Regions from separate parts of the Homo sapiens genome. Here regions 2, 3, 4, 5, 6 and 7 are each linked to region 1. The links come from fine-mapping of genetic effects on gene expression. A gene starts in region 1. Each other region holds a variant in brackets. All regions are shown on one strand. Distances are from middle to middle.

Region 1 (4,000 bases):
ATCATGTCACAGTTTGCCTCATTTTACAGACAGAAAACCCCCCAAGTCCAAGGGGTGACAAGGCACGCAGACAGGAAGTGACGGCCGCAAAACGAACCCAAGCGTCCACATCCTTCGTCCCTGGTTCTTTCCATGGAGAAACCTGCCTGGGTGACCCCTTCCAATCCAGCTGGCTGGGGCGGTCCTGGAGCTCACCTGGACCTATGCCAGGCGGAATGCCATAAAACCACGCCTTCATGCTGTGTCCATTCTCCAGGAGGCAGGCCCCGGAACATCAGCCCATTTCACAGATGGTGACCCAGAGGGCCACAGGGGGGGAGGGTCTGGGCCAAGTTCCCTGTTGGTCATAGGTGGGGTTCAGACCCAGGTCTCCCAGGCCTCCCCATCAGGGCAGGCTGCAGCTGCCAGGGATTACAATCTGCGCACACCGCCTGTTTCCTGAAAACCATGGGCTCCCTGCAGTCCGTGAAGCTGTGGATGCCCAAGGGGCAGAAAAAGCCCCCCAACCTTTGATGACAGCACACACCTCTAAGGGAGCAAAAAACTAAGGCAGACAAAAAAAAGGGCGTTTTGTCTGGAAGATCATTCTTCCAGACCCCTTGTCCCTTCCCCCAGTACATATGGGGCAGGGGATTCAGATGCAAGATGAACACCCTATTAGCTACCAGAGCCAGCAGCATCTGTGACCTTGGGCAAATCACAGCCCCCTTTGAAGCAGCCCCTTCCCCATAGGAGAGCTTCTTGAACTCGGGGGGACGTGGAGCGAGGCTGGGGGATGGGGTGGGAAGAGCAGGGAAGAGGGTGTAAGACCCCTCTATTTTCAGAGGAGCATCGCTGTGAGAAACGGGGAATAAGAGAGGGCCTTGTTCGCCCGCTCTCTCCATGCCCACCCCCACACCCCCTTTAAACACACAGGTGCCAGACAGCTTTTTCGCAAAAACTAGTTTGCAAACACACTCCGACTTCTGGGAAGCTGCCCAGCTCCACTCCCCCTCTGCGCTCCCAGTACCGGGGCTGGGAGCCGGCCCTCCGGCAGTTGCCTGGGGCAGGGGGTGGGTGTTGAGGGGTGGGAGGAGGGCAGAGGGGAGCGGAGAGGAGCCAGCGCCCGCCGAGAGCCAGGGCGACCTCACGCCTTCAGCAGCTGCGGCAGCGGCGGGTCTCCACCTCCCGTACGCCCTCCAAGCCCCTCGGGGCGGGTGGAAGGGTCCCCAAAGCAGCTGGGCTCGGACCCCCGAGGGCGCCCCCCTCCCCAGGGACCCCGCCCGCCCTTCCCCGCAGTCCGGGAGCCGGCGGGGCGCCCCCGCGTGGCCGGGTCGGAGCTGAGTCACCGAAGCGCCGGAGTCCGGGTTCGCGCTGGCGGCGGGGGCTAGAGCGCCGCAGCCCCCCGAGGCGGAACCCGGGTTCCTTCGGACCCGCAGCTGGATCAAAGAGCCCAGCCCCAAGGCCGAAGTTGGGCACTCACGCCAAGCTGCCCCGCCTGCCCGGGCCCCACTCACCGCAGGTCCCGCGGGCGCCACCGCCCTCACCGCACGGCTGCCGCTGCCCGCGCTCCGAGCCGCCCGGGCATCCCCGGGAGCTGCTCCTGCTCGGCCGGGCCCGCGGGCGCGGGACAGGCTCAGGGCGCTGCCCGCGCGGCCACGGCCCGCTCGCGTGCGCTCCCAGCCGCTCGGGGTCCGGTCCTCCTCCCGGGCCGGGCGGGCGGGCGGCGGCGGCGGCGGCGGCTCGGGCTCCTCCCTCCGGCCGAGGAGGGGAGTGGGGAGGGAAGTGGGAGGCGAGGCGGGAGCTTCCTGGAGGGGCGCGCGCTCTCCCACGGGAGGAGCGGGGGCGCTGTCCCGCCCGCAGTCCGCCGCTCCCAGCCCGCGCCCGGCGCGCCGCGGCACTCGGGGCGCCTGGCACCGAGGGGGCCCGAACGTTCGGGCCGAACGCGAGGGTCCGAAGGTTCCAGGCTGGGACTCAGGTGGCTGAGGATCGGAACAACGCGGCTTCGCGCCCTCCCCAGGCCTGCTTTGCCCGAGCCTCTGGCACCTCCGAGTTCCGAGCGCCGTGCGCTCAGGGCCACCGACGCGGGAACAGAGGGGTGGCCTCAGCCCGGGCCTGCGGGGCCCCAGGGCCGCTTGGACCCCCAGCGCCGATGGGAGCGGCGCTGCGCCCTCGGGGCAACACCCAAGGCTGGGTTCTGGGTTGTATTGGGCAGGATTAGGGCCGCAGTGTTTTCTTCCCTTTTTTTTTTCAATAGCAAAAGAGCTCGGCATTTTCTTGCCGCCAGAGATTGGAAATATGACATATTTCTCTGACACAGACGATAAGATAAAGACGGATCCGAACTGGGCCTGGGTCTACTCATCCGTGCGGAAAATTAGGCGAGTCTTTAAGGCCTTGGAGCCCAGGCCTCCTTTTCCCTAGAAGAGGCACCAATTCTTAGGACACTTGTCTGTCGCTGGGCGCTCAAGCCTTTGGCCACTCCGCGGTATTTAGGTGCTCTCTGGGCAAGTTCACCACCGGGCATCAGAAGGCTGAGCCTCACGTAACCAGATTCTGGGGGGCGGGGCTTTCCCGGGGATCTCAAGGCCATGTCCACAGCCCTTGGCCCTGGGGCTCAAGGACTGGGCAGCTGAGGGTTAATGCCGAGTGCTTCCATTGTGGCTTTTCGATTCCAGGCAGGTGAGGGTTAATGTGGGAGCCTCGCGCGCTGCAGCCTGTGAGCCTCCCTCCACGTCTGAGTCACTGGCACTTTGCAGCCTTACAGGGGCCGAGACTAAACAGCCCCCGGGGCTCTGAGCTTTGTTCTCTGCCTGCCTGTCACCCATCCATCTTTCCTTTCTCCAAGCTCTCTTCACCTTTCTTCCACCGAAGCCAATCAAAGCCCTCTGCCCCGCTCTGGGGCAAACCAACCTATCAACCCAACTCCAGCCCCGCTTCCTCCAGGAAGACTTTCCTGATTGCTCTGGCCTCAGAATCTGTCTCTTGTCTTTCCAGCAGCAGGAGAGCCAGGCACTGGGATGGACAGTGGTGAACCAAAGCAGATAGTCTCTCTCAAGTTGCTCACCTGTGGGGGCCAAGATCAGGACCCAGGCCATCATATCACCATATGAAATGTGCAAAGATTGGAGGTAGGGTGGCACAGAAGACCCAACTCAGCCATGGGAGTCAGCGAGGCTTCCTTTAAGAAACCTGAAGGATGAGATAGTTGGGCCTGTCAAGGAAGATACTAGATCCCTAGCCAAGGAGGCAGAGTACAAAGGCCAGGGGTCACAGCAATTCCACTCCTAGATATCTACCCGGGAGAAATGAAAACATATGGCCACACAAAACATACACAAATGTACGTAGCAGCATTATTCATAATAGCCAAAAAGTGGAAACCACGCAAATGTTCATCCACTGATGAATGGAAAAACAAAATGTGGTATATCCACACAACATAGAATATTATACAGCCATAGAAAGGTACGAATTACTGGCCAGTTGTGGTGGCTCACACCTGTAATCCCAGCACTTTGGGAGGCCAAGGCGGGCGATTACTTGAGGTCGGGAATTCAAGACCAGCTTGGCCAACATGGCAAAACTCTGTCTCTACTAAAAATATAACAATTAGCCAGGCGTAGTGGCAAGAACCTGTAATCCCAGCAATTCGGAAGGCAGGAAGGAGAATCACTTGAGCCCAAGAGGCGGAAGTTGCAGCCAAGATTGCGCCACTGTACTCCAGCCTGGGTGACAGAGGGAGATTCCATCCCCCCTCCAAAAAAAAAAAGAAAGGAAAAAAAGAAAGGTGGGAAGTACTGATACATGCTACAGTATGGACAAACTTGGAAAATATTATGCCCAGTGAAAGAAGCCAGTCTCAGACAAATATTACATGGCTCCATTTAGATGAAATGTCCAGAATAGACAAATCCACAAACAGACAAAGCAGATTTGTGGTTGCCTCGGCCGGGGAGTGGAGAATGGGGAGTGATTGCTATTGGCAAAGGGTTTCTTTGGGAGATGATAAAAAATGTTC
Region 2 (4,147 bases), 150 kb before region 1:
TTCTACCTACTTGCTTCCTATTTTTCCAGTTACAGGGGCCTTCCATCGGATCCCCAAACCCACTGAGACCCATTCTTCCTCAGTTAGTGCCTTTGCCTAAAATGTTGTGTTCGCCTAGCTACCCAGTCCTAGAAGCTAGTCCTCAGTCTCTGCCAGGCTATGTCCTACTTCCTCCTTTAAGTTTCACTAATGTTACTTCCCCAGTGAGGTTTCTTCTGACACTCCCACCACCATCTAAATTAGGTCCCCCTCATTCTCTCTAGGACCCTATTCTTTTCCACTAAAAATCTGTTACAATAAACACAAATATATTGTCTTCTCCCCACCTTAGGAACAAACTTCAAGGGTAGATTTTTAGAAAGCTGTTAGGCTCCTGCATTCCTTTGCCTCGCAAATTATCTATTAATTCCATCTATTTTTCCCTCTCTCTACTAAATGTACAGACTACCTTTAGTCTCAGCTGGACCACTTCCAAATTACTGTTAGACATAATAATAGACAATAATTAGACAAGCTTATTAGACATAAGCTCTACAAGCATATTTTGTATGCCACATAGGCACAGTGCCCAGCACATATTAGGTGCTCAATAACAATCTGCTGGATGAGTAAGTGGCCTTATTCTTAATTCTAATACTTGATTCTCTCCTACTCCCAAAAGTAGCCCTTAAAGTCTGAGAGTATAATGTCTTGGAACCTTAGCAGTATACACCAATGAAAGTTGTGAAATCTTAGTCAAAAAAGGCAACAGATGTTTTATTCTTCAATGCAAATTACTGTATTCACCACAAGCTAAAGAAGAGAACATGTATCCTACATATATATTTATATATATATATATTTTTTGTGTGTGTGTGTGTGTGTGGATTTATGGAAGACTAAAGACACGGAAAAAAATCCAGCACCCCAACATGTACAGCCAGGAAGGAAATCAGTTCTGTAATAGGACAGGTATAATGAACTACAAACAAGAAGGGGTGGAAAAAGAAGAAAAAAAAATGTGCATTGAGTTTAAGACACTGTAAAACTCAGAAGACATATTTACTATTCAAGTATAAACTCTGTAAGGACTTGGCATAAATTGAAAGGCAGCTGCTGAGGTACACCATTATAAAAGAAGTTCTATGAATTTACAATTCTACCTTCCAATTTCCTGGGAGAAAAAACCAAACTCTTGAAGGTCTTCACCAGAGACCCTGAGAGGGATTAACACTTTTGATGAAGACATAGTCAATAATTCATGATTGAACTATTCAAAAACATGTATTTATTTAGAACAATAGAAATACGTGTTCTCAGACTGTCCTCTAGAGTTTTTGAGACTATTAGTTCAAGAGTTTCAAAGTATATTACTTGTAAAAACAATACTGATTAAAAAAATTTTTTTTAACAAAAAAACAGAAATCTGATTTGATGGTACCTTGAAAATACCCTAAATACCAAATTTTCTCCAACCTAACATTACAGCTAATTTAAGAATTCCTCCTTCATTGGTAAAACATTTTTTCCTCATTAAATGTGGGTACTGAAATTGGATAGAAACACTATGAATGTGAAAATACCACCAATTTTCTGCAGTAAAAAAAAAAAACCCAAAAAACAAAAAAACAAACAAAAAACCTAGAATGTTCTTTGGAATCACTGAAATATCACAAACTTGGGTTTTTTCTTACAGTCTGTGCACCTTCTTTCAGGTTCTCTGTTTTGCTTGTAGTACTGACTGTGTGATTCTAATTTTTATAGATTCAAGTCTTGCAATGCAATATCCATGCTTGACACACCGGTGTCTCTGACCAGTGAGAAGTTATGCATAACCCAGAAACGCTGTCATTTACATCTCCATAAAGACTTCTGCCCCAAATAAAAACTTCAGAATGACACAACACATCCTGTGTTAAACAATCAAATGAACCCAACAAGGGGGATTCCAGTGTGATTTCAGTACTTGGGAGGGCATTGTCTGCTATGGTTTCTCATGGAAGTACCACAGGCCTGGCTGCTAGCATTCAGCTTTCCTTGGCCTTAAAAGGGATTTTCTCAGGGCTGGCAAGTTGGATTAGATTCTAAGAGAATTTTGTCTTTGACAAACTACCATTTTTAGCATAAAATCTGGCCATGGCTATAAGTTTCAATGTGTGTACAACTGATTAGAG[AGT/T]TTTTTTTTTCTTTTTCTTTTCAACATTGGCTGGAATTGAGTAGAAAAAAGTCCACGATGCCTCTTCACATGTGTCATGAAATATGAGAAATCTGTCTGATTCTAGATACTATTTCTTTACGACACAATGGGCAGGTCTCCAGCTGCAAGGCACAATCCATGCACAGGTCACTGGGGAGAAACACAGAAAAGTCAGTCAAGTTAATGCTTCAAAAGGTCAAACTCCAACTGCCTGCCAACTAAATCAAAAATGTTAACAAGTTTGTTCATTGAAAGGGTTACTAATTATACATGGTTTAAAAAAAATGAATATGTAAATAAAAAGTAAATCTTACATTTCTGATCCTCAATTGTCTTAGTCTGTGGAACAAGTAAAAAGTTCATATGCATTCTTTCAGACACTCTATATGTGCACAGCATATACTTACAGATGTGCACTTATAGGTAGGGATATAATATTTCTCCCCAGAAAGCTAGCCATTTATCCCAGAATCATTTACCAAACAGTCCATCTTTCACCACAGTTTTGACACAATGCCTTTGTCATATGGTAAATTTTCATTTTTAGTTAGTTCTATTTCTGGGCTTTTATTGTATTCCATTATTCTGCCATTCTTGTCATATAGTAATGGGACCAAACTATTAACATTTATTTTAATGTATTTTAAGATGTGGTATGGTTGTCATCTCCCTAACTTTCAGAATTTTCTTGCCTTAAACTTTTAAATCAGCATGTCAAGTTCCAGAAAAAAATCATGTTGCTCTTTTTATGTTGAGCAAATTAAACTTAGAGTTTAGAGAAAACTGTCACCTTTACAATACTGAGAGGTCCTCCTATCCAAGAAGAGACTCATTTATTTAAGTCTTCTGTTATACTCTTTGGTAGTTTAAAAGTTTTCTTCATATACGCTCTACATATTTCTTGCTATGTATTCTTAGATAGCACTTTTTTTTTTAACCATGGTAAAAGGGATCTTCAATTATATGTTCTAACTGGCTGCTATTATACATATAGCTAGAAGAGCTACTGATTTTTGTGTATTTTGTAAGTCATAGTGGTGACAGTAGGCATCCTTATCTTATTCCCAACATCTCTTGAAATGCTTCCTATGTGTCACCATTAAAAAGATGCTAGCTGGTGAAACCCCGTCTCTACTAAAAATACAAAAATTAGCTGGGCATGGTGGCGGGCACTGGTAATCCCAGCTACTTGGGAGGCTGAGGCAGGAGAAATCACTTGAGCTCGGGAGGCGGAGGTTGCAGTGAGCTGAGATCACGCCACTGCACTCAAGCCTGGGTGACAGAGCGAGACTCCGTCTCAAAAAATAAATAAATAAATAAAAATAAATAAATAAATAAAAATAAAAAAATAAAGAGATACTAGCATTTGGCTGAAATATATGTGTTTTTTGTATTGTTATGGAAGTATCCATCCATTCCTATTTTATATTGTTTTAGTCCATTCATTTCTGTTTTGTAGTATTTCATCCATTAGGAATGGATATTGAATTTTAACAAATGCTTTCTCAGCATTCTTGAAGTGATAACTGCCCCTCTCCTGCCTCTGGCCTATTTGAGTAATTATATTAAAGATTTCTATATTGTAGGCTGGGCATGGTGACTCATGCCTGTAATCCCAGAACTTTTCGGAGGCCAAGGCAGGTGGATTACTTTAGGTCAGGAGTTCGAGCCAGCCTGGCCAACATGGTGAAACCCCGTCTCTACTAAAAATACAAAAATTAGCTGGGCCTGGTGGCATGCGCCTGTAATCCAAGCTACTCGGGAGGCTGAGGCAGGAGAATTGCATGAACCCAGGAGGCAGAGGCTGCAGTGAGCTGAGATCACACCACTGTACTCCAGCCTGGACGACAGAGCAAGACTCCATCTCAAAAAAACCTGCCTTTGCCTGGGCTGGAGTGCAGTGGCACGATCTCTGCTCACTGCAACCTCCACCTCCCAGGTTTAAGCAATTCTTTGTCTCAGCCTCCTGAG
Region 3 (4,147 bases), 24 kb before region 1:
CCGAGGTAGGCGGATCACAAGGTCAGGAGATCGAGACCATCCTGGCTATCATAGTGAAACCCCGTCTCTACTAAAAGTACAAAAAAAAAAAAAATTAGCTGGGCGTGGTGGCAGGCGCCTGTAGTCCCAGCTACTCGGGAGGCTGAGGCAGGAGAATGGCATGAACTCAGGAGGCGGAGCTTGCAGTGAGCTGAGATGACACCACTGTACTCCAGCCTGGGCAACAGAGCAGGACTCTGTCTCAAAAAAAAAAAAAAAAGAAAGAAAGTATGCTAGACAGTAATAGTGTTAAGGAGACGAGAAGGAGGGGGTGGGAAATTGAAGACCAATTTCAGGGAAGGCCTCGTTGAGGAGGTGATGTGGGAGCAAAGGCTTGATGGAGGTGAGAGGGTGCCGTGAGAAAATTCAAGGAAGAGAGCATCCCAGGCAGAGGGAACAGCAAGTGCAAAGCTCCTGAGGGAGGAGAGTGCCTCGTTTAATTCACGGACAAGGGGCTAGGTTTGGCTGAAGCAGAGTGAGGTGCGGGGAGGAGGGGTGAGGTCGGAGAGTCGGGGCACTGGGGACACATCAGGCAGGGCCCCATTGGGTAAGGACCTTGGAATGTACTTACACTAAGTGAGATGGGGATGCCCCAATGAGCAGGTTTCCAGGTGTGTTTTGAATACCCCTAAGGGATGGAACACTCACTACCTCAGAGGTGAAGGAGTCCTAATCTGGAGTGGCCAGGAGGGCCCCGTGCTGGACCAGTCCCTAGAATGTGATGGAGGTGGTGGCCCGAGGTCCCGGAATGAGGCCACACAGCCCTGGGGCTGGTGGGGGCTACTGTTCCCAATGGGAGCCCTTCCTCTGCCCGCCTTACCTTCTTGTCCAGCCTCCTGCCCGCCAGGCTTAGTGTGATGACGCGGTTGTCGGACAGCTCCTGGGCAGCGATCTGTAAGGCCGGGACATGAGGGGCTCCTCAGACTCCCCCAGCCTCCTGCCAGGCAGGATGGCACAGGGTGCCCCAGGAGCAATCCTCCAGGGCTAGGAGGGGGAAGGGAAGGGCAGTTCCAGGTGACCTTGGACAAATCTCTTGTCTTCCCCACACCTCAGTTTCCATCTTCTGGAAAATGCGGAAAATAACCCATCTGGAGATGAGGAGTCAGGAAGCGGATCTACGCAAATCCGCAGGGCCCATGGGGTGGTGGGCAGAGATGAAGCAAGGACCAGACACCGGGGGTGGTCTTGAGTCCCGGGGAGAGGTTCTGGCCCAGAGAGCAGCATGACCGGCCTTCTCCTGCCCCTGCGGCAGCCACAGAGAGCACAGCTTCCTCAGAACACCAAGGTGTCAGCATCACAGCCACTTCATTGTACAGCTAGGGAAACTGAGGCCCAGGGGAGAAACTGAGTCCCATCAGTTCACATTGGTCATCTGTCCTCCATGCATTCCCCATCAGCTATGGTTCCCTGACCCCAGCCCAGCCAGTGATGGCCTAGCTGGGCGACTTCGAGACTGCTGAGGCCCCCTGTAGGCCTCTCTCCCTCCCCTGCTGCCCACAGCAACACAAGTGGGCTGGGGCCTTTCGCTGGGGCCTCCTCTCCTCTCCTGCCTCTAGGATGGCCTCACCCAGCGCAAGGCATCTGGCCCTCTGGACCCACAGACAGAGGCCAGCCATGTTGCCCGTTCTCCCCTGCCGTCCTCCCACTGGGACTTGCTCAACAACCCTATAGGGTAGGTCCTATTATCACCCCCATTTCCCAGGGGACGGGATGGAGGCCTAGAGTGGAACTGCCAGAAATGCTGGGGTGATGGCATACCCGGGTGAGTGGGGTCTGTCTGAGATGGCTTCTAGGTGGAAGCTGCCTTGTGAAGGCATTCATTCATTCATTCATTCAGAGATGGGGTTTCACTCTCTTGCCCAGGCTGGAGGGCAGTAGCATGATCATAACCCACTGCAGCCTCAAACTCCTGGCCTTAAGGGATCCTCCTGCCTTAGCCTTCCAAGGAGTAGTGCTACAGGTGCAAGCCATGCACCTGGCCTGGGAAGGCATTTAGATGGGCCAGTTAGGAACCAAGAGGTTGGGGGAGGTTGTTTGGGAGGTGGTGATCCGTGGGGGCAGGAACAGAGTAAGAGCCTGAGGTATGTTCAGGATATGCTAAGAATTCAGTTTGCTTTGAACGCAGGGCATTTAAGTGAAGGAGATTAAAAAAACACCAAGGCAGGAGAGCCAGGCAGGGTCTGAGGGGTCCTTCACAGCCTTGAACCGAAGGGTTGGTCAGGCAGTGGGGAGCCATGTGAGGTTCCAGGACAGGGGAGTAACACACGGGAACACACAAAGGCATGGCTTCTCCCTCCAGCCTGGCCGGCTTCCCAGGCATC[G/A]CGTGGGCTCAGAAGCCAGCCAGACAACCAGGGGACGATCTCGCTAGCTCAGCTGCCCCAGGGAACTTCCTCTCTGGGTCTCAGGGGTGGCCCTGGCTTCTGGGAGTCTTTGAAGACCAAGGAGCTCATCCGGGCGAAGGGCCTGTGCATCTCCAGCGGAATTACTGCGCATCGCGGGAGTCGTTGCGCATTGCAGGAATCATTGCGCGTCGCAGCCACAAGCAGGGCACTGATGGGCAGGGCACTTCTGAACGACCCCCAGGGGAGGGCAGGCAGGGGCCAGTGCAGGGAGGGGGCTGCTGGCAGGGCTCTGGAGGCCTCCCCAGCTTGTCAGCCCCCACTGCATCATTTGTGGAGCCAGCAGCCGGTTGCTAAGAGACCTGTTGCTAAGTTGTAAGTTGGGCCTTTTTACTCCAAACAAAGCTGGTGATTATCTGCCAGGGAAGCGGCCCATTGATGGGGGAGGGTGTGGGGTGGGGATGGAGGGGGTGCGGAGAGCCGGGAGGGGACTGGTACCGTAATCAAGCCCTTCCCCGCAGGCTTGTCATTCAGCAGCAGCAGAGGCCTAGTGATCTTCTTGCTGGAGACGATCTAGGGGAGAGAGGAGAAAGGGCGCTCAGTGAGGAAGCGGGGGAAGCCCGGGAAGGAAAAATCCTCCACCGGCACCGGAAAAATCCTCTTGGCAGGGCTGCACCCCGCCCTGGCTGGCTGGTGACCCGCCTGAGCATCATCATCACCCTGGGAGGTGGACAGCAGCCAATCTGGGCAGTGAGGAGCCTGAGGCCCAGAGAGGGTAAGAGACCCGCCTGAGGTCTCCCGCTGCAGTTGGACTCCCACTGCCTGGTTTGCCCCTAGGAAAAGGCATTTTGGAGACAACTGTGGGAGGTTAGCCCCCTAACTCCCTCCTCCAGAGGCATTCCACAGACCCCACCTGCCTCAGGATATGATCTCTGATGGACAGAGTCAAGCTCAGATTCTATGTATTTTCCTTTTGAGACAGGTCTCGATCACGGCTCACTGCAGCCTCAACCTCCTGGGCTCAAGCGATCCTCCCACCTCAGCCTCCTGGGTAGCTGGGACTACAGGCATGCATCACCACGCCTGGCTTTTTTTTTTTTTTTTTTTTTTTTTTGGTAGAGACAAGGGCTCATTATGTTGCTCAGGCTGGTCTCGAACTCCAGGCTCAAGCGATCTTCCCGCCTTGGCCTCCCAAAGTGCTGGGATTACAGGCATGAGCTATAGAGCCCGGCCAATTCTTTCTATTTTTATTGGTTTCAATAGGTAATACACTTACACAGGGTGCAATAATCAAAACAACATAGAGAGGAAAAGTGGGCCACATTGCAAAGTCACCCTCCCACCTGTGTCTGCCCACTGCACTCAGGGGCCAGCATGGTTCGTGCTTCCTGGGTGCAGTGCGAGCGTCGTCCTGTGCAGCGGGGAGCACACATCAGTATGATCTAGTCCTGCTCCTGTGGGGCTAGTTCTTCTCCGCAGATCCACACACCTGCTCTGTGCCCTGGGGACTGTGCCACCTGGCTCTTTTGCCCTCTGGCTTTCAGAGGTTCAGCCAGTTGGGGGGATGGGCAGGAGACGGGAGAGCAGGTGGCGTGAGAGGTGGGGGCCCCCGTTTGATGGGAGCTTCTCCATTACTCTGTCTTCTGCCTCAGTTGCAGTCCAGAGGCCTCCCTCTATGGGCCACAGGTCTTACCAGGCCCTGGCAATGCCACTTCCTCACCCTGCCTTCCTTCCAGGTGAAGGTGGTCAGCTTTCCTCTGGGGCCAAGC
Region 4 (4,000 bases), 40 kb before region 1:
TGCACCCATCACATCCGGCTGCTGCTGCTCGCATGGCTTCGGGGTATAGAAGGACTCATAACTGGCCCCGTTCAGGGCTGTGGGTGAGACTGCAGTGCCTGCAGAACCCAAGGCCTCGGGAGACGCTGCAGAGCTCAGATGGGGGACAGTCCCTCCTTTCTTCCCTCTCTTGCAGCCCCACAGCCCCAAATCCCCCTCAGCCCCCTTCCTACCATGTACCACATCCGCATTCACTGCTGTGCAGGAATCCCCTTACTCCTTCCTCACAACACCCCAATGGAAGGGCAGCTGTTATCACCTCATCTTATGGATGACAAAACTGAGACACAGAGTGGACTAGAATTTTCCCACATTTCCTGGCGGGCAGAGCTGGGACTCGAACTGAGGTCAGGCTGCTCCCAGAGCTCACGCTAACCTCCAAAGGCATTCCTCCCCCAGGGATTTTCAATGAGGAGGGTGGAGGGGTGCCCCGGTCCTCAGCTGCAGGAGGAGGGCTTTTGTCTGGGCACAGACAATCCCAGACAGACTCTTCAGCTCCAAGACATGACGATGGGGGTACTGGGAGGCTCTCCTGCATCCAGCGTCCCCATTTTACAAATAAACAAACCGAGGCCCAGAAAAGGGAAGCCAGGCACCAGAGCCACACAGTCGAACAGGCCTGAGACCCAGTGCCCTCCCCTCCCCTGGGGGTGGGAGTTGGTCTTACTCCTGGGGGAGAGGGCAGGGACCCAGCAGTGGGGTTCAGTCTGGCCTCCCTGGCAGCCCAGGGGAGGGGAGGTGGTGGGAGGACTCCTCCCCGTTTCAGGCAATGGGGTTTTCTGTTCTTTGCTGTCTGCTTTAGGCGCCCGGCACAGAGCCAGTCCCCTGGTGTCCCTCTTGGGTCCTGTCCCTGTCCAGGGCCCACTTCACCCTGTCCCCAGTCTGGGCTCCAGGTTTGGGGGCTGGAGGTCCCTGTTGCCATGGAGACTTCCTGAGCCTCTATAGAGATTACGAGGGGGGCTTGTATGGAGGGGCTGAGAGAGAAAATGGTTGCCAGGGAAACAGGACTCCCTTGGGCCAAAGTCTTCCTGAAAAATCAGATTTTAGGAGATTTTAGAGACCACAGTGGGAAAGCCCCCTGCTGATAGGGGTGGAGGAATATTTTGCCTTCTCGGGCCCCCCGCTCTTCATCCCCACTCTTCCCCCCTCTTTATTTGGGGAGGGCCCAGCCTTGCGGTCAGGGGGGCTGTGGAAGGTTGTCCATCTGCCCCAGAGGCCCCAGAGGTTGTCTCCTCCAGCAACTCCATTTCATAGCTGGAAAGAGTGAGGTTCCCAGAGGGCCAGGGAGTGCCCAGGTCACACAGTGGGGCCTGGGGACAAGTGTCCATGCTACCAGGAGTGGCAGCTCAGCCCCTCCCATACTGGTTGCCCTGGTTTGCCTGAGAAAAGTCATAAACAGAACAAGTTCCTGGAGGCCACAGAAGCTGATGAGGGGCCCCTGGGGACTGGCTGCCAGCCACAGGCCTTTGTCCTGGGACTCCCTATTGCCTTCTGACAGCCAATGGCCCTGTTCACCCAACCTGGCCTGGCTCAGCCTTGAGGTCAGGGAGTTACTTCAGGCTCAGTTCCCTGTGGCCCTGGCTGAGGCAGGTGGTAGAGGCAGCGGGTGGGGCATGGAGAAAGCCCAAGGGATCTCAGAGTGACTGTCCTCTCTGAGCCTCAGTTTCCCCACCTGCAGAGTATGCTCCCCCTCCTCCCAGACCTTTGCACAGACTGTGCCTTCTGCCCAGATCCCGTTCCTCATCTGAGTAACTCTGCTCACGTTGAAGGGCCAAGACCTCATGCCATCTCCAAAGGGAAACGCGTCCTGAGACCCTCAGCCACTCTCTGGGGCAGGAGTTCTCTCTGGGATCATCTGGGCCACCCTCAGGGAGAAACTGAGGTCTCAAAGGCAGGCAGCCTGGTCACGTGCTCCTTCTGGTTCCTTCTAGCTTCCCACCCTCAGAGAACCGACCCCTCTGTTTGCTCAGGCCTGGGGTCCCAAATTTGGGCTGGGTCCCAAATTCATTC[C/T]GTCAACAAACAATGGCACTGCACACTGCAGGCCAGGTGCTGGGATGCAGGCAGAAAGAAACCCAGTGCCTTCCCCAGGCAATCACAAACAAGTCACAGAGTTCCATGAGGGCAGGGCTCTGGGCAGGAAGAAGGGCCCCCATGTGAGTGTGAGCATGGCTCCCAGAGGGCAGGCCACTCCCCGAAATTCTAGGTGAAAATCGGTGGCAGAAGCCCAGGAGAGGGAGCAGCGGGCTGAGTGAAGGCCATGTGCAAAGGCCCTGAGGTGGGAGTGAATGAAGGAGCTTCAGGCAGCAGGAGTGAGGCGAGTCAGAATGCGAGAGAGGGTGAGGGGCCAGGAGGGGCCAGGCCTGGCGGCTCCCATGGCAGGGGGAGGTGGGACACAGCATCTGTCCTTTCCTAGCCTGGACGCAGCATCTTTCTTGGCACCGCCGGGCACTCCAGCCTGGCCAAGCCCTGGCCTCCCCAGCATCGCCCTGTGACATTTACAAGGAGGCTTTTGCTCAAGAAAACATCTCATTCAGTTCTTTGAAAGCTGGCTGGTGTCCTAGCAACGGGCTCGTGCTGGGCCCAGCCGCACCAGCTCGCCCTGCCCCCCGAATGGCATCACTGTGGCCCAGCTTTGGTCCCATCTGAGGCGTAGCCTCACACCACAGGGAGCCAGGACACCCACATCTCCTGCCCTGGCCCTTGGGCCACTCCCCGAAATTCTAGGTGAAAATCATCCTCCCCAGAGAGGACCAGAGAGGACAGGAGGCAAAAATTCACTCTGGAAACAGCAATGCGGCACAGCAGGGCAGACAAGAAGGGGCACTGGCCGAGCGAGACCCATGTGCAGGCTTAGGAGCTCTCTGGCCTCACACCCCACAGGCTTCTCATGGGGAGGCAACAGTGTCTGAGAAGAAACTTTAGAGTCCAACTGCCCAGTTGGTGAACATGGCCTTGGGCAAGTCATTTTGAGGCTCCAAGCCTCAGTTTATTGCCCTGTAAAATGGGACAGCATTCCCTGCCCATCTGCAGCGACTCCCCAGCATCACAGCTTCTGCCCTCATTGACGTCTCCATCTCTGAGCCACCAAACCACCCCTCCCCTGGTGCCCGTGGTTCTATGAGGAGCCCCCGCCTCCTGCCCCAGGACTACCCACAACCACACCTCAGGGACCCCCGCTTCAATTCACCTCCACGCCTCTCCTGGCTCCTCCTCAGCCTTTAGACCTGCTTGACCTAACCCTTCCCCTCCCTCACAGCCAGTTGACTTCCACGCTGGCTGACTGCCACACTGGCTGATGTCTCCATGCCCTTCTCCCCTCCCCATCTTGTCTCTGCCATAATGGCCCCAGCCATGGTCAGTGAAACGGATGGTCTCTTCTCAGCCTTACCTCACCAGGCCCAGGGGCAGCCTCCAACCCCACTCCCTCCTCCCCGAGCCCTGACTGCTTGGCTTCCTCAACGATCAAAATGGGTTCATAACAGGGCCTACCTCATTGGCTTTGGTGAGAATTAGTTGAAACTGGTAAAGCAGGCAGAGTGGTATCTAGAACATTCTAAGGGCCCAATAAATGCTGCTACTTATGGGTTTGCTTTCTGCCCCTCCCTCCTTCACTTCCTCCCTGCTCTGCCCCCGGGCTCAGTCTCCGCTTCATCTGCCTGGCTCTCTCATGCAGCTGTCTCTTTTTTTATTTTAATTAATTAATTAATTAATTTTTTAGAGACAGAGTCTCACTCTGTCACCCAGGCTGGAGTGCAGTGCACTCATAGCTCACTGGGCTCCAGGGATCTTCCTGCCTCAGCCTCCCGAGTAGCTGGGATTACAGACTCCCGCCACCACACCTAGCTAATTTTTGTATTTTTAGTAGAGACGGGGTTTCACCATGTTGGCCAGGCTGGTCTCGAACTCCTCACCTTGTGATCCACCCTCCTCAGCCTCCCAAAGTGCTAAGATTATAAGTGTG
Region 5 (4,147 bases), 67 kb after region 1:
TACATTATTTAACCTACTGTATTTGGGGAGGAGGTTTCTCTGTTACTGCAGCCTAGCCTTTTCTCTAGCTAATATGCACACTGAGCCTTTGCTCTGTGCTAGGCACTGTGCTACAAAATGTTTTTCATGCACCATCCCATCTCATTCTTGCAATGACCATATGAGTTGGCTATTGTTACAGATTCGTTTTAGGAACGAAGAAACTCTGGCCTAGACAGTGTGCATGTGTGTGCTCCATATACTTGCCCAAAGTCCACCAGCCTCTATAGACAGCCTGGATCTGTGGTTTCAGCCCATGATTGACAGAGAGACTGAGAGTCCAGAAACCACAGACAAGAGGAGGATCCATTTGGACTCCAGAGGTCCTGTCAAGGTATGGAGCTTCCTCTCTTGCATTGCAGGCCATTATGTTCTGATATTCAAGATTCTTATCCAGTCCTCTTGGCAGAGGTTTGCTAGACTGGTTGGCCTCTGCTCCCCCAAAAGCCCAATCCCCTCCCCGGTCCTCCTCCACTCTTACTCACCTGAGATTCTCTATCTGCCCACAGCCTACCAGAGCCTCAGGGCAGTGGGGCTCCAGGGGACAGCCATCAAAATCCAGGTGGATGGGGGCCTCCCTGTGCTCTAGGATGTTGGTCAGGGTGGCCAGGTCGGTGCAGGTCAGTGGGAAATTGTGGAAGGGCAGTTGATAGGGGAGGCTTTGTGCGGTGAGACTGGCCAGCTCAGGCTCCTGTGTCTCATCCACACAGTGACACAGCTCTACAACCTTTGGCCCTGTGAGCTTGCGGGTGGCCAACTTCTTCAACACCTGCACTACAGCAGCCTGCTTGGCACCCACACAGTCCTCATTGCCCTGCGCCAGGTGGCTAAGGAAGGGGCGGCAGGTGCAGGATGCCAGGCCCGCCAGGAAGGTGGGGAGGTGGTCTGAGAGGCCCAGTCTAGCTTTGGTCCGCTGTACCCAGCGGGAATGGAGGGTAACATACTGGGTAAGTGTGTCTTTGTTCACCTTGGGGCTGGCCATCAGGTGCAGGGCAGCAAGAAACTCCTGCAGGCTGAGGTGGGTGAAAGCATAGCCTGTCTGCTGGTGCCCAGGGCCTGTGCAGACGCAGAAGGAAGTCAGCAGGCTGTGAGTGGCCCCAAAAGCTATCAAGGGTGGAGCAATATCTTTTGCATAGAAGATAACCTTCCCTGTCTCCAGGCCCCTCAGGGCCACCTCCCCCAGGTCCAGTAGGGACGAGGTGGGCAAGTGCCCAGGGGGGCTGAGGGCGAGCACCATCTGCATATAGAGCTGAGTCATGTTGGGCAGGAGGGCCACAGACTGGCCTGGGGCGTGGTCAGGAAGCAGATGGTGGAGGCAGAGACAGGCGACTTGGCACAGTGCGGGCACCGCACACAGGCTTCGGAGACGTCCATTTGTCTGTAACTCCACCAGGGCCCCCTCCCGCGATGGCTGGGCGCTGAAGAAGTGATTCACATATTCTTCCACCCGTGGCCCATCAAAGCCCAACATGTGGACCATGGCTGCCTCTGCAGGCAGGCAGGCAGGCAGCTTCCCTGGACGGGAGGTAGCCATCACCCGGCAGCCAGGCAGGAGGGTCCCATTGCAGAGATGGGAGAAAAGGGTGAGGACTGGGCCTGGGCCATCAGGACCCATAGGCTGGAGGGCCTCATCTAGCCCATCAAAGATCAGCAGGACTTGGTCAGCGTTCTTCTCCAGGTACTGGAAGACAGTGTCGTGGTCCGATTCAGGGCTCAGGTACAGATCAAAAAGGAGCTCGGACGGTGTCAGGAACCTCGTGATCAAGTTGAGCTGGCGGAATTCAAAAAGGAACAGGGCCTGGAAACAGTTCAGATGGCCCTCTGCCCACTTCTGGCAGAGCCGGTGGGCCAGCGTGGTCTTGCCCATGCCAGCCTTCCCCAAAAGCACGGTCACCCTCGGGCCCTTGTTAACCCTGGTGTTGAAGAGGTCCGAGATGCTCACGTCAGCACCATCTTCCACCTTGACGTCCCCCATAATGGCCCCCTCCGGAGTGTCTAAGGATGCTGTGGCCCGGCGCAGGATTGGAGGGACATAGACCTGGTGGAAGGCGTGGGGCTGCCCTGACCCAGGGATTTGGCTCCTGTAGCGCTGCTGGGCAGAGGTCCGCAGGAGCTGCAGGTACTTCTTGGCCAACTCTGCAAGGGGCAGGGACATGGCATGAGGAGAGGACCCCCCGGCCCTCTGCTCATGTCTTCTTGCCCCAGTATTGGGCTGTTGGGAGCCTGTAGCCCCAGATGTGTATGTATGATGGGGTGAGGGTGGGGGTGTCAAGAGCACCATAGGGGGATCTGTGCCACCCCAACTTCCAGAAGGAATCAGTTCTAAGGGAGCATAGGCTCTCCGGTAGCTATTTAAACAGGCAGGTGGGAATGGGGAAGTGTGGGTCACGGTTCTATCCATTCTGCAATAGTACACGTGGTGTAAGGGTTCAGTAAGATGG[G/A]GGGAGGGGAATAGGGCACCTCCTTTGCAACATCTCTTTTTTTTCTTTTTTCCCAGAGACAGAGTCTCAGTCTTGCCCAGGCTCCAGTGCAGTGGCACGATCCTAGCTTACTGTAGCCGCAAACTCCTGGTCTCAAGTGATCCTCCTGCCTCAGCCTCCTGAGTAGCTGGGACTACAGGTGCACACCACCACACCCAGCTAATTTTTGTATTTTTAGTAGAGACAAGGTTTTGTCACGTTGGCCAGGCTAGTATTGAATTCCTGGGCTCAACTGATCCACCTGCCTCAGCCCTCCAAAGTGCTGGGATTACAGGTGTGAGCCACCGCGCCCAGCTACTTTGCAATATCTTATTGAAACAACCTCTTTCTGTAATATCTGGATCCCCAGTGCCTCTTCCCAATATTTCAGTTCTGCAATGCCCAGGGGTGAGCACTAACAACCTGTAGGCCTAGGCATTACCGATCGGAACTGTGGGAGCTGGGCCCCTACAGTGCCAGATGTTAACCTTTTAATTCCTGGGTCATTGAGAGGTCTCAGGTGACCCAGGGAAAGGGCTGGGGCTGCTTTTGGGGGAACCCTATGGGGAAAGGCCAAGGTAGTGAACTATTTTGAGCGGATGTGAATCCTCTGGTTATAGCCATGGTTGGCAGCAGTGGGGGCAGAGAAGGCTCTAGTTAGTGGGACAACTCGTGGAGAACGAGGACCATTCTGAGAACTGGTCAAGAATGAGAGAAGTCCCCTTTCTTCTCTCACTGGCCTGGCCTGCCCTAAGCAGCTCCATGTCTCCCCATGGGCCCCCAGGGCCTCTGTCTTGAAGGTTTCTCCCAGGCCTCCTCACCCCTCCCCATCCCTGCTCACCCCCAAACTGGTCTCCTCCCTGGGTCTCCTTCAACACTGAGGACATAGGGTGTCCCTGGAAAAGCCTGGACAGCGAAGCTGAGACCTGTATGGTGCTTCCAGCTCCTTCAGCGGAGCCCTCTTCAGAGAAGTCCCCATGCAGCCAGATGGGTGGGGAGCCCCTTCGCTGCCAGCCCAGGCCTCTCCTCTGCCTGTGCAAGACCTCCAGTCCTTTTCTCCTGGAAACTTGCGAGACAAGAGTCACTGGGCCTCTGGAGGCTTATTGGCAGGGGACAAGGTCCAGGGTCCGGGTCTTGGCCCCCAGGCAACCCCATCTCTCTGTTTATGTTCCTCCCCACACTGGTACCCACCTAGCTGCTGCTTCTTGCACTGCTTCCGGCGGGGTGAGGACCCACAGCTCTGATGTGGGCGCTTCAGGCCTGAAAAAGCAAAGGAAGGGGTGGAGGAGTGGGGTCTGGGGATCTGGGCTGAGGGGTTACCCAGAACCTTTGGGGAACTCCAGTCCACAGACAGGTGGCAGGCAGCCAAGTACACCCACATGCAGGGACTGGAAAGGCAGGCAGCAGGCAGAGGCTGGGTCAACACCAGCTTCTATTTGCAGAGTGGACTTCTAGGCACCCCCATTGGAAGGTGGATGTTCTGGGCCTGGCAGTCTTGCAGTCCAGGATGCAGGAAGCAGGGCCAACAGCCAGCAGCCCCCAGAAACACTCAGCTCCAAGCACTAAATGGCCATCTGTCCATCAGGGAAGGACCAAGCTCTATGGAAGCCGCCGGTGGTCATATAAGTGAAGTTCCCAGTGAGTTTGGC
Region 6 (4,000 bases), 840 kb before region 1:
GTTCACGCCATTCACCTGTCTCAGCCTCCTGAGTAGCTGGGATTATAGGCACATGCCACCAGGCCTGGGGAATTTTTGTATTTTTAGTAGAGATGGAGTTTCTCCATGTTGGCCAGGCTGGCCTCAAACTCCTAACTTCAGGTCATCCTCCTGCCTCAGCCTCCCAAAGTGCTGGAATTACAGGCGTGAGCTGCTGCGCCCGACCAGGAGTAACATTCTTATTCTAGGTTATACTTTGCCTTGTCTGTACCATCTGAGATCATCTCGTGTCCTCCCCAGTCTCTGGGAGCCCCACACTTGGGAAAATGTTCCCGGGGACACATTGACACAGGGGGCTGATCTAGCTGTGCTAGAGTACATGATGATTCTAGATGCTACAGACAAGGTAATGAGAAGCTGTAGTAAGAACATTACTTCCATTTTATTTTATTTTTTATTATTTTGTGAGACAGGGTCTCGCTCTTTCGCTAAGGCTGGAGTGTAGTAGGCGCGATCTTGACTCATTGCAGGTTCTACCTCCCAGGTTCAACCTATCCTCCAACCTCAGCCTCCCAAGTAGCTGGAACACTGTGACCAGCCGATTTTTGAATTTTTTTGTAGAGGTGGGGTTTTGCTATGTTGCTCAGGCTGCTCTTGAACTTAAGGGATCCTTCCACCTCAGCCTTCCAAAGTGCTGGGATTACAGGCATGAGCAACTGTGCCTGGCCCCCTTTACATTTTTAACAACTTCTCCATTCCTGCTCATCCTCTTCTCCAGAGGATTTAGGGTTCACTCCATTAAACTATAGAGTAAGTGTAAGCAATTTAACAGAGTGCCGGCTTTTCTTATAAAGGCCATTTGAAAAAAACCCCATATCGGCTGGGTGCGGTGGCTCATGCCTGTAATCCCAGCACTTTGGGAGGCCAAGGCCGGCAGATCACCTGAGATCAGGAGTTCAAGACCAGCCTGGACAACATGGTGAAACCCCGTCTCCACTAAAAATACAAAAATTAGCCAGGCGTGGTGGCAGGGGCCTGTAATCCCAGCTACTCAGGAGTCTGAGGCAGGAGAATGGCTTGAACCTGGGAGGCAGAGGTTGCAGTGAGCCGAGATCACACCACTATACTCCAGCCTAGGCGACAGAGCGAGACTCCATCTCAAAAAAAAAAAAAAAAGAAAAGAAAAGAAAGAAAAAGAAACAAAAAGCACATATATAATTATTTCAAAATCTCCCTGCTTCCCGCTTTTGGGGGGTGTATCCCTGCCTGCCTTGCTGGTGCCCACACCTGTGCCCAGCTGCTATTGGGTAGACCCCCCTAGGTGTAGGGGAGAAGGAGGAATACTATCCCAGCCTCTCAGTATCCTCTGAGCTTGGACTTGGGGCAGACCTGTCCCTGCAGTCCCTGAGGTGGGTGATGGAGCCCAAGGTAGGGCCACGTCCAGGCTCCCTGGAGAGGACCTGATTCTCAGAATGTGGGACACAGTACAGGGCCTCTCAGAGGTCCAGAGTCAGGCTAGCTGATGAATTTGGGGGCCCCTGGCATGTACAAGAACAAGGACATAACCAAGCAGTTATCCAAATAGGAAGTAGCACACACTACACAGTCTGTT[A/G]CCCTTGATTGGAGGGACCCTGCAAATGTCTCCATTTGATGCTCTTCAAGAATGTGAGGCCAGCCGGGCCCAGTGGCTCACGCCTGTAATCCCAGCACTTTGGGAGGCCAAGGTAGGTGGATCACCTGAGCTCAGGAGTTCGAGACCAGCCTGGGCAACATGGTGAGACCTCATCTCTACACAAACACAAAAATTAGCCGAGCATGGTGGTGTGCGTCTGTGGTCCCAGCTACTCGGGAGGCTGCCGGGAAGATCACTTGAGTCTGGGAGGCAGAGGTTGCAGGAGGCAGAGGTTGCAGTGAGCTGCAATCGTGCCACTGCACTCCAGCCTGGGTGACAGAGTGAGACCCGCCCCCCCTTCTCAAAAGCAAACAAATAAAATAATTTTTAAAAAGAATGTGAGGACTTGGCTGGGTGCAGTGGCTCACACCTGTAATCCCAGCAACTTTGGGAGGCCGAGGCAGGTGGATCACGAGGTCAGGAGATCGAGACCATCCTGGCTAACACGGTGAAACCCGGTCTCTACTAAAAATACAAAAAATTAGCCGGGCGTGGTGGCAGGTGCCTGTATTCGCAGCTAATTGGGAGGCTGAGGCAGGAGAATGGCATGAACCCTGGGAGGCGGAGCTTGCAATGAGCCGAGACTGTGCCACTGCACTCCAGCCTGGGTGACAGAGCAAGACTCTGTCTCAAAAAAACAAAACAAAACAAAACAAAAACTAGCCGGGCGTGGTGGCGGGAGCCTGTAGTCCCAGCTACTCGGGAGGCTGAGGCAGGAGAATGGCATGAACCCAGGAGAAGGAGCTTGGGGTGAACTGAGATTGCACCACTGCACTCCAGCCTGGGAGACAGAGCGAGACTCCGACTCAAAAAAAAAAAAAAAAAAAAGAATCTTTAAGAATGTGAGTACTTGTGCCTTCTGGCTCCTCCCCACAGGCCTGGGAAGGCATGGTCACCCTAACTTGGGGTGGGGAAACTGAAGCTCAGAGAGGGGAAGCAGCTGACTCAGGCTGTGCTAGGCCAGGCGCCAGGACTCTGGCTCTCCTGTGTCCTCTCTGGGGGCTGCCACTGCCTCAGCTCTTGGAGCTTGCTCAAGTGCAGGGAAACCAAACTGGGCTTTGAGAGCTAGGAGAGCTGGGCTCCAGGCTGTGTAGGGGAGCTCCCGTGGTTTCTGTGGCTTTGTGGCTTCTTTCGTGGCTCCTGGGCTGGTGGCTGTGACCCTCAGAGGACCCCAGGCACCACGTTCCTGTACCCCCTGCATGGAGCTTTTCTGTGTGCCCCATTGGGAAGTGAAGCTATCAGAGTCCCCTCCAAACATGCTTTCTCTGGTTTTCTTCAAGAACACAGCTGGACTCCTGGGACCCAGCTTTTGTCTCTCTCTGACTTTCTCCTCTCCTTCCTCTCCCCCAGTGCCTGCCACGAAACAGCACCCAGAAGTGCAGGTGGAAGATACTGATGCTGATAGCTGCCCCCTCATGGCAGAAGAGAATCCACCCTCAACCGTGTTGCCGCCACCGTCTCCTGCCAAATCAGACACCCTTATAGTCCCAAGCTCAGCCTCGGGGACACACAGGTTACCTTTTATGCTTCTCTTGGGCTTTTCTCGGCACTGTGCCACCTGTTTATTTGGCAGATGAAGAGACTGAGGCCAGAGGGAGAAGCAGCTGGACTAAAATCACACAGCGAGTTGGTGTCAGAAGTGGGACTATGATGCCCCTTCCTCGTTTTCCTAACTCCTGAATTAGGTCTCTTATAAAAGCTCTCATGGGAGGCCCTGTCCCAAATGCCCTCAGCTATAAGTTAGAAGGAGTAATATAATAAATAATATAGTAATAGCGAGGCACGGTGGCTACTGCCTGTAATGCCAGCGCTTTGCGAGGCTGAGGTGGGTGGATCGTTTGAGGCCAGGAGTTTAAGACCAGCCTGGCCAACATAGCGAAACCCCGTCTTTCCTAAAAATACAAAAAAATTAGCTAGGCATAGTGGCTCACTCCTGTAATCCCAGCTACTCGGGAGGCTGAGGCATGACAATTGCTTGAGCCTGGGATGTGGCAGTGAACTGAGATTGTGCCATTGCACTGCAGCCTGGGCAACAGAGCAAGACTCTGTCTCAAAAAATAAAAAAAAAAAACTTTTTAAATTTAAAATAAATAAATAATATAGTAATACATAATAAATGTTACAGAATTAATTTCTACCTCCACATTTTATTTTATTTCATTTTTGATAGGATGCTATTTATTAAAACTTGCATATTATAACTCACCAAGTCTTTTTTAAAAAAAAAACTCTTAAATTTTAAGTGTACAGTACAGTATTGTTACCTATATGCACATTATTTACAGCACATCTCTAGAATTTTTCGTCTTGCATGACTGAAGCTCTATACTCATTGAACAGCAACTCCCT
Region 7 (4,000 bases), 860 kb before region 1:
AAAGTGGGTGGACTGAATAGCCCTGGGCTTGCGGTGTTGGGTTGCAGGAGGAGAGGAATTAGCCAGGGGTCCTGAGCTGGGGGTCCTGGCTCCCAGCTGGCCCACATGTGTCTTTGTTTGGGCCATGGAGTGATTTTAAAAATTAGAATTGATTGCCAACATTTAAAAATCAGGTAGCTTTACATGGAAAAATCTGGCTTCTCTTGAAAACTGGGTGGACTTGGCTGTCATGGGCCCACACTGTGCTTGTGAGGACAGTCTGGGCAGCTGCTGGCACCTGAAGGCAGGTGGCACCTGCCTCTTCATTTGTTTACATCATCACCCTGGCTGGGCAGGCCTTTGGATTTGAGATCCCTGAGGTCTCAAACTGGTGATGAGGTGGGGCAATCCCAGTAGAGGGAATAAAGTGTGGCATACAGGAGAGTGGTGGGACTTCAGCTAATCTGGAGCCCAGCATCCTTAATGCAGAAGATAAAACTAGAGAAGTTGGGGCCTGACTTTAGGAAACTAAGCTGTAGGCAATGGGGAGCCATTGAAGGTGATTGAGCAGGGGAGTGACTTCAGAAAGATTACTCTGAGGCTGAGCAAGCATTGGAGACAGGGAAAGCAATCAAAGCAGGGACACTTCCAAAGCACCTGGGGCCAACTATGAAAAATGTCCTACCCCAGACTTTCTGATTCAAGAGTACCGGGAGCTGGGAATTTGGTTCTGTGTTGTTTTTTTTTTCTTTCTTTCTTTCTTTTTTCTTTGATGACCAAGCAATGGTTATGGAAGAATCTGCTTTATTGAGAAGCACCTGCTTTCTCAGATGATTCTGATGACGGGGTAGAGGCTGGGACCATACTTTGAGAAACATCCAGTGAGAGGTTAGTGCTTTGGGGCCAGGTAGGAGGAGATGTGAGCCTGAGCCAGGGAGAGGCAGAGGAAGGAGGTATCATGACCCAGGCCTGCCAGAAAGGATGGAGGTTTGGAGTTAGGGCTCAGGCTTTGACAGAGACCCAGGGGTCCAGGTGGGGACCTTAGCCTAGAATTCATGTGCCCTGGCTCCTGCCTGCTGATCCTGGAAGCAGGGGCTCCTTCCTACATGAGGCTGTTGACTTTCTTTTTTTTTTTTTTTTTTTAAGATTGAGCCTTGCTCTGTCACCAGGCTGGAGTGCAGTGGTGTGATCTCGGCTCACTGCAACCTCTACCTCCCGGGTTCAAGCAATTCTCCTGCCTCAGCCTCCCTAGTAGCTAGGACTACAAGTGTGCACCACCACGCCCAGCTAATTTTTGTATTTTTAGTAGAGAATGGGTTTCACCATGTTGGCCAGGATGGTCTCGATCTCTTGACCTCATGATCTGCCGACCTCGGCCTCCCAAAGTGCCGGGATTACAGGTGTGAGCTACTGTGTCCGACCGAGGCTGTTGACTTTCACTGGCCAGGGTCAGAACCTCATTTGATGGCCCTGAGGGCAGAGAGGCCACTGACCAGGAGGTGGTGTGCCAGGGTGGAGTGGCAGTTTCTATGGGAACTAGGGCACTCATAGCTCCTGAGCACCTGGGTAGGGCCACGGAGAAGCTGGGCGAGCTATGAATCAGCTGCCTGTAGAGAGGGGCAGTTGGAGCTCCAGGGGTGGGCCAGGGGCTCCTGCACCACGCCTCCTGGGGGCCTGCCCTGGGGGCTGTGTGGCAGCATACCCAATCCCTCCCCTTCCAGGTTGGTGATCTTGGGCACCGTCCTCCTCTCAGTGCTGCAGAATCTTTAGCTGTAAAATGGGAACAGTATAGGACACATCTTGCAGGCCTGCTGCGGAGATGGAAAGAGGAAATGAGGCCGGGCATGGTGGCTCATGCCTGTCATCCCAGCACTTTGGGAGGTCAAGGTGGGTGGATTGCCTGAGGTCAGGAGTTCGAGACCAGCCTGGCCAATACGGTGAAACCCCATCTCTACTAAAAATACAAACATTAACCCGGTGTGGTGGTGCATGCCTGTAATCCCAGCTACTCGGGAAGCTGAGGCACGAGAATTGCTTGAATGGGAGGCGGAGGTTGCAGTGAGCCAAGATCATACCATTGCACTCAAGCCTGGGTGTCACAGTGAGACTCTGTCTCAAAAAAAAAAAAAAAAAAAAAAAAAAAGGAAATGCTTGTAAAACACCCACGCACTAAATAGGACCTAAAAAGAAAATGTTAATGGAAAGGAAAGGAAAGGAAGTGTGGAAGCAAGGACAGCATCAATTCTTAAGGACGGCACCCCATAAGGAGTGGCCACTGATGCCAGTGAGGCGCTCGTGGGGCA[C/T]ATTTATCACCTGGGATAGTGCACTGGGAAAACGGGAGTCAGGGGACCTGGCTCTGCCTCCACCTTCCTGTGTGGCCTGGGACAAGACACTCAGCCTCTCTGAGCTGGCTCTCTTTAAAAGGGGGAAAGTACTGTTCCTGCCCTTTGGGGCTGCTGTGAAAGCTCACGTGCTGTCAGGCAAGATGTTCTGTTCCCTGGATGTCCCCTGCTATGCCCAGGCAGGAACTGGCATCCCAAGGGGCTGCTTAGAGTGGAGACATGGCACTATTGCTGGACAGCAGCATAGACTGACACAGACAAAGCGTCCCACCACCGGATTCAGGGTCACACTTGGAGGAGCCTCCCTGGCCAAACCCCAGGGGCGTTTGCAGGGCCAGAGGAGCCGGGAGCAACCATGGAAACAGCTAGTTCAGGATGCTCTTGGGGCTTCCCTAGAGGGCAGGCAGCACCTCATCTGTGAAACAGGGATAATATCTGTACCTAGAAGTGGGGAGCTCTGTGCCTGGCAATGGAAGCACCCCATAAAAGAAGGTATTTATCTGTGTCTCAGTTTGCTCATCTGTAAAATGGGGAGAAAAACATAAAAGAGGGAAAATAAAATGGGGATGCAAATTATAACCCCAAAATGTTGATGTGAGGACTAATCGAGTTATTCCACGTAAGCCATTCAGCACAGGGCCTGGAACATAGTAAGTGCTCAAAAATGCAGCTGCTGTTACTATTATTGTTGTTATGCAACATCATGAACAATAACAGCCAAAGTCTCAGGATAAGACTTGAGGCCGGCTTCCATTTAAAGTCATTGTTACTACTACCCAGGTATGGTGGTGCATGCCTGTAGTCCCAGTTACTCAGAAGGCTGAGTGAGGTGGGAGGATTGCTTAAGCCCAGGAGGTCGAGGCTGAGGTGAGCCATAATTGCACTAATGCGCTCCAGCCTGAGCAATAGAGCAAGACCCTGTCTCAACAACAAAAAAGTCACTATTACTAATTCATGTTTGGCTGAGGTCCACCAAGATCCCTGGAGCTTTCGGGGGACACCTAGTATTCAGGCATTGTCCTTTGTCCCTGACACCTGCCTGGGGGTAGGCTTAGGTTCCTGATGAGACTGCTCTGCACTCCCTTTGAGCATCTGCCAGGCTTATAGGCCCAGGGTGTTTTTGTTGTCAAGGACCAGGATACTTGAAGAAGTGTTGAAAATTAGACTCCCATCTGAAATTGGGACCACCCCCATGAGAAAGATGAGTTTCCCTGGAGGGCGGAGCCTCTAGACCCAGGAGGGAGGGAAGGACTCTCAGAAGCAAATGCCGAACGTATGGGCGTGCTGTCACCCGGGGGTGGCATCTACAGAGCAGGAAGCGGGCAAGCTCTCTCTGCATCCCCCAGGACAATCCAGTCCACCTGCACCTGGATGTGGCCAGGTGGACCCTGAACCTGGGCCTTTTGGCATCCCTGTGATGCTGTGATTGGAAGCATTGTTTCTGCCTCTGCACAAACCTTTAAGAAGGAATCCCCCGTGAGAAACAAACAGGATCAACCATAATCAAAGCTCTGTCTCAAGAGGAGAAGGGGGGAAAATAATGGAGACAGAGTGAATGAGCACAGGCTTCAACCTATCACCGGAACACCGATCTGGTCCCGCTGAAAATGGAAAGTGCCATTTCCCCACTGCATGACTAAGCACTGAGGCACTGCTGGCGACAGCCAGGGCTCCCTGCA

Evidence for each region.
Region 2: its variant is fine-mapped to the expression of CPNE2 in whole blood (INTERVAL, PIP above 0.99).
Region 3: its variant is fine-mapped to the expression of CPNE2 in nucleus accumbens (GTEx, PIP 0.98). The same link has a PIP of 0.9 or more in caudate.
Region 4: its variant is fine-mapped to the expression of CPNE2 in whole blood (INTERVAL, PIP above 0.99).
Region 5: its variant is fine-mapped to the expression of CPNE2 in whole blood (INTERVAL, PIP above 0.99).
Region 6: its variant is fine-mapped to the expression of CPNE2 in naive CD4 T cells (Schmiedel 2018, PIP 0.95).
Region 7: its variant is fine-mapped to the expression of CPNE2 in naive CD4 T cells (Schmiedel 2018, PIP 0.95).

Annotation. Positions count from the first base shown.
Region 1 is chr16:57,090,287-57,094,286 of GRCh38, reverse strand. It overlaps CPNE2 (copine 2), which reads right to left and starts at 1,704. Exons shown (of 16, transcript NM_152727.6): 1 at 1,497-1,704. RefSeq lists silencers at 1,213-1,622, 1,683-1,732, 1,843-2,092, 2,113-2,182.
Region 2 is chr16:57,237,058-57,241,204 of GRCh38, reverse strand. It overlaps RSPRY1 (ring finger and SPRY domain containing 1), which reads right to left. Exons shown (of 15, transcript NM_133368.3): 15 at 736-2,326. The coding sequence ends at 2,230. Among named protein-coding and RNA genes, the nearest start is that of ARL2BP, 6.1 kb to the left of the region's middle. The variant AGT/T (reference allele first, on the strand shown) is at 2,154.
Region 3 is chr16:57,114,280-57,118,426 of GRCh38, reverse strand. CPNE2 (copine 2) reads right to left here. Exons shown (of 16, transcript NM_152727.6): 4 at 2,877-2,951; 5 at 860-931. Among named protein-coding and RNA genes, the nearest start is that of CPNE2, 24 kb to the right of the region's middle. The variant G/A (reference allele first, on the strand shown) is at 2,361.
Region 4 is chr16:57,130,116-57,134,115 of GRCh38, reverse strand. The region is part of intron 12 of CPNE2 (copine 2); the gene reads right to left. Among named protein-coding and RNA genes, the nearest start is that of CPNE2, 40 kb to the right of the region's middle. The variant C/T (reference allele first, on the strand shown) is at 2,050.
Region 5 is chr16:57,023,396-57,027,542 of GRCh38, reverse strand. NLRC5 (NLR family CARD domain containing 5) reads right to left here. Exons shown (of 49, transcript NM_001384950.1): 5 at 3,690-3,758; 6 at 525-2,175. Among named protein-coding and RNA genes, the nearest start is that of NLRC5, 36 kb to the right of the region's middle. RefSeq lists an enhancer at 574-1,092. The variant G/A (reference allele first, on the strand shown) is at 2,481.
Region 6 is chr16:57,930,880-57,934,879 of GRCh38, reverse strand. It overlaps CNGB1 (cyclic nucleotide gated channel subunit beta 1), which reads left to right. Exons shown (of 33, transcript NM_001297.5): 17 at 3,002-3,164. Among named protein-coding and RNA genes, the nearest start is that of CNGB1, 38 kb to the left of the region's middle. The variant A/G (reference allele first, on the strand shown) is at 1,592.
Region 7 is chr16:57,950,616-57,954,615 of GRCh38, reverse strand. The region is part of intron 12 of CNGB1 (cyclic nucleotide gated channel subunit beta 1); the gene reads left to right. Among named protein-coding and RNA genes, the nearest start is that of CNGB1, 19 kb to the left of the region's middle. The variant C/T (reference allele first, on the strand shown) is at 2,283.